Linked DNA regions of Homo sapiens. The protein of the gene in region 2 purifies or fractionates together with the protein of the main gene of each other region. This does not show direct contact. Each region holds a gene or a part of one and is shown on either strand. Other genes may lie near its edges.

Evidence for each region. Proteins that work in one complex are often made in the same cells at the same time.
Region 1: the proteins of BRPF3 (region 2) and SUGP2 purify together in Homo sapiens (affinity purification with mass spectrometry, with the first as the bait; one large-scale study listed by BioGRID). This does not show direct contact.

The regions. Positions count from the first base shown.
Region 1 is NC_000019.10:19,009,372-19,013,021, forward strand, and holds part of SUGP2 (SURP and G-patch domain-containing protein 2), read right to left. Parts: intron 972-3,650; coding exon 484-971; intron 1-483. UniProt on the Homo sapiens protein: May play a role in mRNA splicing.
Region 2 is NC_000006.12:36,203,149-36,206,798, forward strand, and holds part of BRPF3 (bromodomain and PHD finger-containing protein 3), read left to right. Parts: intron 1-1,509; coding exon 1,510-1,666; intron 1,667-3,650. UniProt on the Homo sapiens protein: Scaffold subunit of various histone acetyltransferase (HAT) complexes, such as the MOZ/MORF and HBO1 complexes, which have a histone H3 acetyltransferase activity.

The DNA.
Region 1 (3,650 bases), on a different chromosome or scaffold from region 2:
CTAAGGTGACAGAAGAAACAGAAGGGGTGAAGTTAGTCGATTCGGAGGAAGCAGTGCAGGTCAGCGAACCCCAAGAACAGGAACTGTGGAGACCCTGGGGATGAGGAGGCGCAATGAGAACAAGGCAGTCCCGAAGACTATCAAGGGAGGCCAGGATATAGCAGGACATGGGATCCCAAGTTCAGGCAATGCACCGCCCACGGCCCCAGCAGCAGGACCCTGTCGGGGAGCACGAAGGCATGGGGCAGCACCTCATACCAGCTCCGCTCTCAGAAGAGGAGGAGGGAGCTGCAGGACTCGCATGCAGCTCTCTCAAGAAAGCAAGAGAGAAAGCGCCAACATGTACACTTGTCCTGGCCAGGTCCCTAGAGCTTTTATCCACTGCCTTGCCTAGATTGCAGGCCCCCCCAATTCTAAAGAGACCCTGGAGATGGGAGAGTAGGGACTGGGGCCCAGAGGAGGGGGACAGGAGTGAGCACCCACTGTCAGCAGATGGGCAGGGAGAAGAGGTCTGAGGTGCTTCAGAGATGTCCACTCCTGCTGGCTTGGGGGATGGGCCTGAGGCTTCTAAGCTGGGGTCCTGAGGAGAAGGTCCAACTGGGTCTGGCGGGCAGTCCTTGGCAGCATCATTTCTGTCTGGCAGGGATGGTTTTGCCTGTGAGAGGCCTGGAGCCTGCCGGCCGTGGTGTTTCAGCCTGGTGCCTGAGGATAGGAGGGTCTGGGTCCCGGTGGTCGCTCTCCTCGCCTTCCAGCCCCGGAGCCCTTGAGCACGGAGGAGCCCCCGCCGCTGCCACGGAAGGAGTTTCTTCTTGAGGTTGCGGACAGCCCGGGAGTACAGCATGGCCCTCACTGCACAGTCTGCTGAGGTCGGCTTCTGGTCGGCTCCTCGCAAGTTCTCGCTCATCCGCTGCATTTCTGCCAACTTCAGCTTGTAATATTTATACTCCAGACTATTTTCATCAGACAAAAACCTAGATAACAAAACAAGCATAACGGGACATTTATGAAAACACCACCAGGTCCCAAATTGTTCCTTCAAACACAAACCCTTTCTAAGTGGCCAACTCCTCACTGTCCTCTCCTGTCTCAGAGGCTCTGCCTGGCTCTACTGAGGACCCAGAGCTAGGCCCAAGACAGCTGCCCTGCTAAGAGTGACCACAGGGCAATCGGGAGTTTGAACTGAGTTCCTCCTTGATTTCCATCAGCAGCAGCCGTGAGGGAGCTCCCAGCTCTTGATGGCCTGGAAACACAAACCAGTCACCTTGGAGCCATAGCACCCTGGCAGGCAGAATTGACACCTTTTAAATGGCCCAGCCAGGATGAGTGCTCGGTGAGCTTTTGACTGCATCAAGGAAAGTGTGATGTGAACCACAAGAGAACATTAACCAAGGAGCCTGCGGCCCAGGTGTGAAATCTTATGACCCAGTCATCATGATGAGAACAGTAAAGAGAAGGTTGAGCTACATGTACTAACAGAAAAATATTCAGCTGGGCGTGGTGGCTCACACCTGTAATCCCAGCACTTTGAGAGGCTGAGGCGGGAGGATTGCTTGAGCCCAGGAGTTCAAGACCAGCCTGGGCAACAAAACAAGATCCCATTTCCACAAAATAAAAAAATTAGCCAGGGTGGTGGTGCATGCCTATAGTCCCAGCTACTCTGGAGGCTAAGGTGGGAGGATCACTTGAGCCCAGGAAGTCGAGAGGCTGTGGTGAGCTGTGATTGCACCACTGCACTCCAGTCTGGGCAACAGAGCAAGACCCTATCTTTAAAAAAAAAAAAAACCTTCTCCTTCTAGTGTCTTTACTTTTTTCATCATTTTCCTTCTAGCTTCATGAGTTGATTACAGCTCACCGCAGCCTCGACCTTCTGGGTTCAGGTGATCCTCCCACCTCAGCCTCCCCAGTAGCTGGGACTACAGGCGCGCACCACCACGCCTGGCTAATTTTTGTGTTTTTGGTTGAGAGGACATTTCACCATGTTGCCTAGGCTGATCTCAAACTCTTGGGCTCAAGGTAGCCATACGCCTCAGCCTCTCAAAGTGCTGGGATTACAGGTGTGAGCCACTGCACCTGGCCCACTATTTCTAATAAAGTCACCTGAAGTCACTCTTTCTCTTAAGTATTTTTATGACTGCATCTGGTATATAATGTTCTTCTTGCCACTTCCTTCTAAATTGCTTCTAATTTCAGCTATGATTACCCTTCACTCAAAAGTTATTCAGAAACATGTTTTATTTTGGTTGTTGCTGGTTTCTAGTTTGCTGTATTGGCATAATGTGGCCCACGTGAATTTCCTGGGTGTGCTGTGATTTTCTCTGTGATTTCATACATAACGAACTTTTAAGATGGGCGTGGTGGCTCACGCCTGTAATCCCAGCACTTTGGGAGGCGGAAGCAGGTGGGTCGCTTGAGCCCAGGAGTTCAAGACCAGTCTGGGCAACATGGCGAAACCCCATCTCTTTAAAAATAAATAAATAAATAACCACCCCACAACAAACATAACAGACTTTTGTGAATATTTGATTTCAGTTTGTGTTAAAGAAGAATATTGCTTAGTAAGTATGGCAGTATTTCAGGTGGCTTTCAGATTGTTTGATATTAAGTAGCGACATATCAGTTATTAGATGAGGTTCCAGATTACCAGTGACAAGCCAACTAGAAGTAAGGTGGCTGTGTGTTGCACAGCATTGGCAGCACTGTGTGATGTGGCATGTCCCTGGCAGGCAGCTCCATACACAAGCTCCTGCTGACACTGTTAGCCAGTTGAGGTCTGTCTGGACCTGACAAAACGACTGAGTACCGGCTCCACTGCTGCCCTGGCACTCTGTTGGGCTAACGGTGGCATCCTGCAAGATCATGCCCTAATAAGCAATAGCGCTCAATTAAGAGAATGCTGACCAACATGGGCACTCTGGTTCTCAAGTCAAACACAGCCCCAGCAAGGCAACTCCTCATCAAGGGCAGAGCGCAGAATCAGGGCCAGGTGACCTGACTGCCCCAGTCACTCATGGCTCTGATGGCTTTCCTTGTTCCTGGATGGTTCTGATGCCAAGTGCAGTCCGAGGATGTCAGTCCCAAATGCATCTCCCAAGTTCCAGTGGAACATAACATCAAGAACAGAGAACACTCAACAAGCCAGTCTGCTGGCTTCAAATCTCAGCATAGCCACTTATTAGCTGGGAACCTTTCTGTGCCTCAGTTTCTCCATCTGTAAGACAGGGAAGATGATAAGCAGTAGCTACTTCATCATACAGCTGTGAGGCCTGCGTTATAAGCTTTTCACTAGGAGGCAAGTGCTATGAAAACTGCCTAGTAGTCATTAACCGCTCAACAAATATTAGCAGATTGTCTCTGTTTATGCTCATTTCCTGTGTTATAAAATCTTCCACAACCTTATTTGGATTACGTCGTCTACGCATTTCAGAGAAACATTAATGTCTCCTACCATGGTTTTGGATTCATCCAATTCCTCTTATCATGGTTTTGGACTTAAATGATTTTTTTTTTTTTGAGACGGAGTCTCGCTCTGTCACCCAGGCTGGAGTGCAGTGGCGCAATCTCGGATCACTGCAACCTCTGCCTCCTGGATTCAAGTGATTCTCCAGCCTCATCCTCCCGAGTAGCTGGGATTATAGGCACCCGCCACCACA
Region 2 (3,650 bases):
ATGCCTCTTGCTGGGGCCAGCAGAGCTTGCTGGCTAAGAACCAGACAAACCTACATTTGAAACCCAATTCTGTGACTTAGTACCTTTGTGACTTTTGGCAAGTTGCTTAGCTGCTCTAAGCCTTAGTTTATTTGTAAATGAACCCACCACATAGAGTTGTTGTGAGAAATAAATGAGATAATATAAGTAAAGCACTTAGCACAGTGTCTGGCAAATAGTAAGTGCTCAATAAATGGTGACTACTGCTGCTGCTGCTATTTTATTATTGCTGTTCTTTTCCCTACCTGCACAAATGCTGTTGGGATCCTCCATGGCCAAGAGGTAGAGGGAGGGTGCTGCCTACATCTGGGCAGGTGTGCTTGGCATGGACATTGGTCGGGATCTGTCCTTTGGGGAGAGGCCTAGTTCTTGATTTTATAAGCTTGGCTTTGGGGCAGGAATGTCTGACTGTGGAGAGGAGCAAGGCCTAGGTGAGCAACGTCCTGCCCAACATGCCCATCCTTCTAAGGTTTCAACTTGTTTAGCTGTGCTTATCTTTGTTTCAATGGAGTGGCATGAAGAGAAAAAGGAGAGGAAACACCACAAGAGCACTGAGGCCTTGCTTACCCTGTGGATAACCAGTCTGGGGATGTACCATGGTATAGCAGAGAGATCGTGGATTCAAATCCAACCTGGATCCACCATCTTATTAGCTGTATTAGTTACTTTGACAGTTTATTCAGCTTCTGTTCCTATGCTGCCTTTCCATCTTTTGTAAAATGGAAATAATGATACCCACCTTGCAATATGGATATTAAAGACAGATATTATAGGCTTGCATTAGTTCCTCTCCTACCCCTTTTCCTCCCCCAAGGAGTTACTGGCTTAAACCCTGACCTTAAGACTTTTGAGTAGTTTAGCCAGCTGGGTTTTCACATTTCCCATCCTCTTACATCTTTAGATCCAATTTTTTTTTTCATTTGGTTCAAAATTAAACAACATTTTTAGGCTGTTGAGGTTTATACCATGAAAAACCAGACGTCAAACAAGTCTAAGGGGTTGCATTGGGCTCAGCCTGGTTGTGGGCTACCCCCTGGTTTGATGGGACTCTCAGCCGCAGAAGGCAGGAAATAGTGGCCACATTAACCATAGCTTACCCCAGTTCCTGTTCCCTTTCGCTGCTTTTATAAGAGGAGGCTGGGGGTATTGAGGCATAGGCTTGTTTTTCAGTCCGTACGTGGAACAAGGAAGTCCAGGACCATAGGAAACGGGACTCTGGGAGATGGTTCTTTTGGAGGATTAGGACTGCAAGGCAAGAGGTGGAAAAGCAAATGAAATAACTCATGCTGAATCTGAGCTGCTTAACTTTACTGTCCTTTTCAAGCCTTTCTCTGAGGTGAGGTATTTGGCCATTTTATTCTGTCTTCCTGTATAAGGTTCAGAAATGAACCAGGTCTGGATAGGATGCACAGGCTGTAATCTGGGCTGCCCACTGACCTTGTCTTTCACTTCCGTGTGCCTCTACTCAAGGTTGAACAAGATCTGTAGTGGTCTCTCCTTTCAGAGGAAAAACCAGTTTATGCAGCGGCTTCACAATTATTGGCTGTTGAAGCGGCAGGCACGGAATGGTGTCCCTCTTATCCGGCGCTTGCACTCCCATCTGCAGTCCCAAAGAAACGCTGAGCAGGTAGGTGCAGTGGTGATTTGAGGCTGGTAGAGGGAGGTGGAGAGTGAAGGAAAAGGAATGATGGTTGGGGTGGGGCTGGCACCCCTTCTTGATCCCTCCATGGAGCCTTTGCCTACCTGTCTGGGTGGCCTATCCCAGGAACAACCCCCAGCACTACAGAGATCTTCAAGCAGCTCCTTCTGGATGGATGAGGCTTGACTTTGTAGAGAATTCTAGGGGAGAGTGGAGAGCATGCGTAGCTTTCCATATATGTGGGGAAAATCCTCTAGATGTAGCAGAAAGCCAGAAGTAGGCTGAATGAGAGCCAGGGTGGCCACATTGTGTTAATTAGGAAAAGGTGCCCTTTCCTCAAGACATTATACTGCCATCTGCCAAAAAATGTTTCATAGTAAATACACAAATTTACGATCTAAGTTGTAGCACACAGCCTGTCCAATTGTGGTGGCTGTTAGCCATTAGCAACTGGAGTTGCTGCATGTTTAATGTTTTCTGCTCCTAATTTCTCTTATTTTAACTCTTTAGTTCTTTCTCCCCCTTTACCTGTTCTATTCTTTCTGTCTTTAAGTGTTCCCACACTGCTGCTCCAGAGATGAAGCAAAGCTTTATGTGAGTCTGGTGCCTTCTGCATTCTGTCTGATCTCACTTTTGCCTTTTATAACTAAACTCCTGAAGTATAAGCCTGTATCTGGCCCGCCTTGAACCTTTTGGTCCACCTGCTCCACTGAAGCCTCCCCTAAAACATCAGCTACCTTCTCCCAGGAAGTCTTTCCTTATATTCTCACCTGATTGATCATTGGGCTGCATTTGACACCACAAATGACTTTGTCTAAGAGCTTCTCTGTGATACCACTTCCGGCTGCTTCTACCTCTCTGACTGTACCCTATGCTGATCCCACTTCTTGCTCTTTAATGGTAACATTCCCAGTGGCTCTGCTATCTGCTCGTTTGCTTGGAGAACATGTCCAATCTCATAATTGACAATAACTGTAATAGCAGCTCCAGACTTTTTGTCTTGTCCTCATCCCTTTTTTCTGCCATCAGTCCCTCAGGGATGTTTCCATGTGGATGTTGTTAATTTGTAACTCAAATATTGGAAATTAATTATCTTTTTTCCTCTCAGTAAACTTATTTCCCCATCATTATGGCTCTCCCCTCCCTCCTGGACTCATATCAAAAGTTCCCCACCTTGGAGTTACTTTTGACTCTTTACTCCCTAAGGGCCATTTTTAATCATCCTTTAAGCTGCTTTGGGGGCTTTATCAACATGGGTTTTTGTCTTCATTCTGCAGCTCTCCTGCTCATCCATGCCCTCTTAATCTCAGCAATAGCTTTCTAGGTGATCTCCAGCCTCTAATTCTTTCTTTGATCTTCAACTGGTAGTTTCTTATTCACATGCTGTTGGGATCCTCCATGGCCAAGAGGTTGTAGAGGGAGGGTGCTGCCTACATCTGGGCAGGTGTGCTTGGCATGGACATTGGTGGGGATCTGTCCTTTGGGGAAAGGCCTAGTTCTTGATTTTATAAGCTTGGCTTTGGGGCAGGAATGTCTGACTGTGGAGAGGAGCAAGGCCTAGGTGAGCAATGTCCTGCTCTTCCATTCTCTTACTTCCTCTTCCAGAATATACTCCTCTTTCTAGGCAGGCGAAGTTAAGGCTCTTTTGCCTTACATTTGAAGCTTCTTATTAGCTGTATCCTGGATCTTCCTTGGCTTTTATAGTTCTCCAGCATCTCTGTTCTGGCCAGCCTGTTTCACTTACTAAGCAAAGAATCACTAATTCTGCCTCTATATTTCTGCCCCTTTCATCCCTTTGGTTCCAGAAGAGACCTTCCTTACTACTTTGCCCATCCATGTCTGTCACCTACCTGTATGTTAAACTCTAGTAAGAGTCTTCACCAGGAAGCTTCTCTGATCTAACCTCCACCTACTCAGATCTTCTATTTTGTATCCTCTTAGCATTTTATTTCCAGTTTATATTATTAGTTTG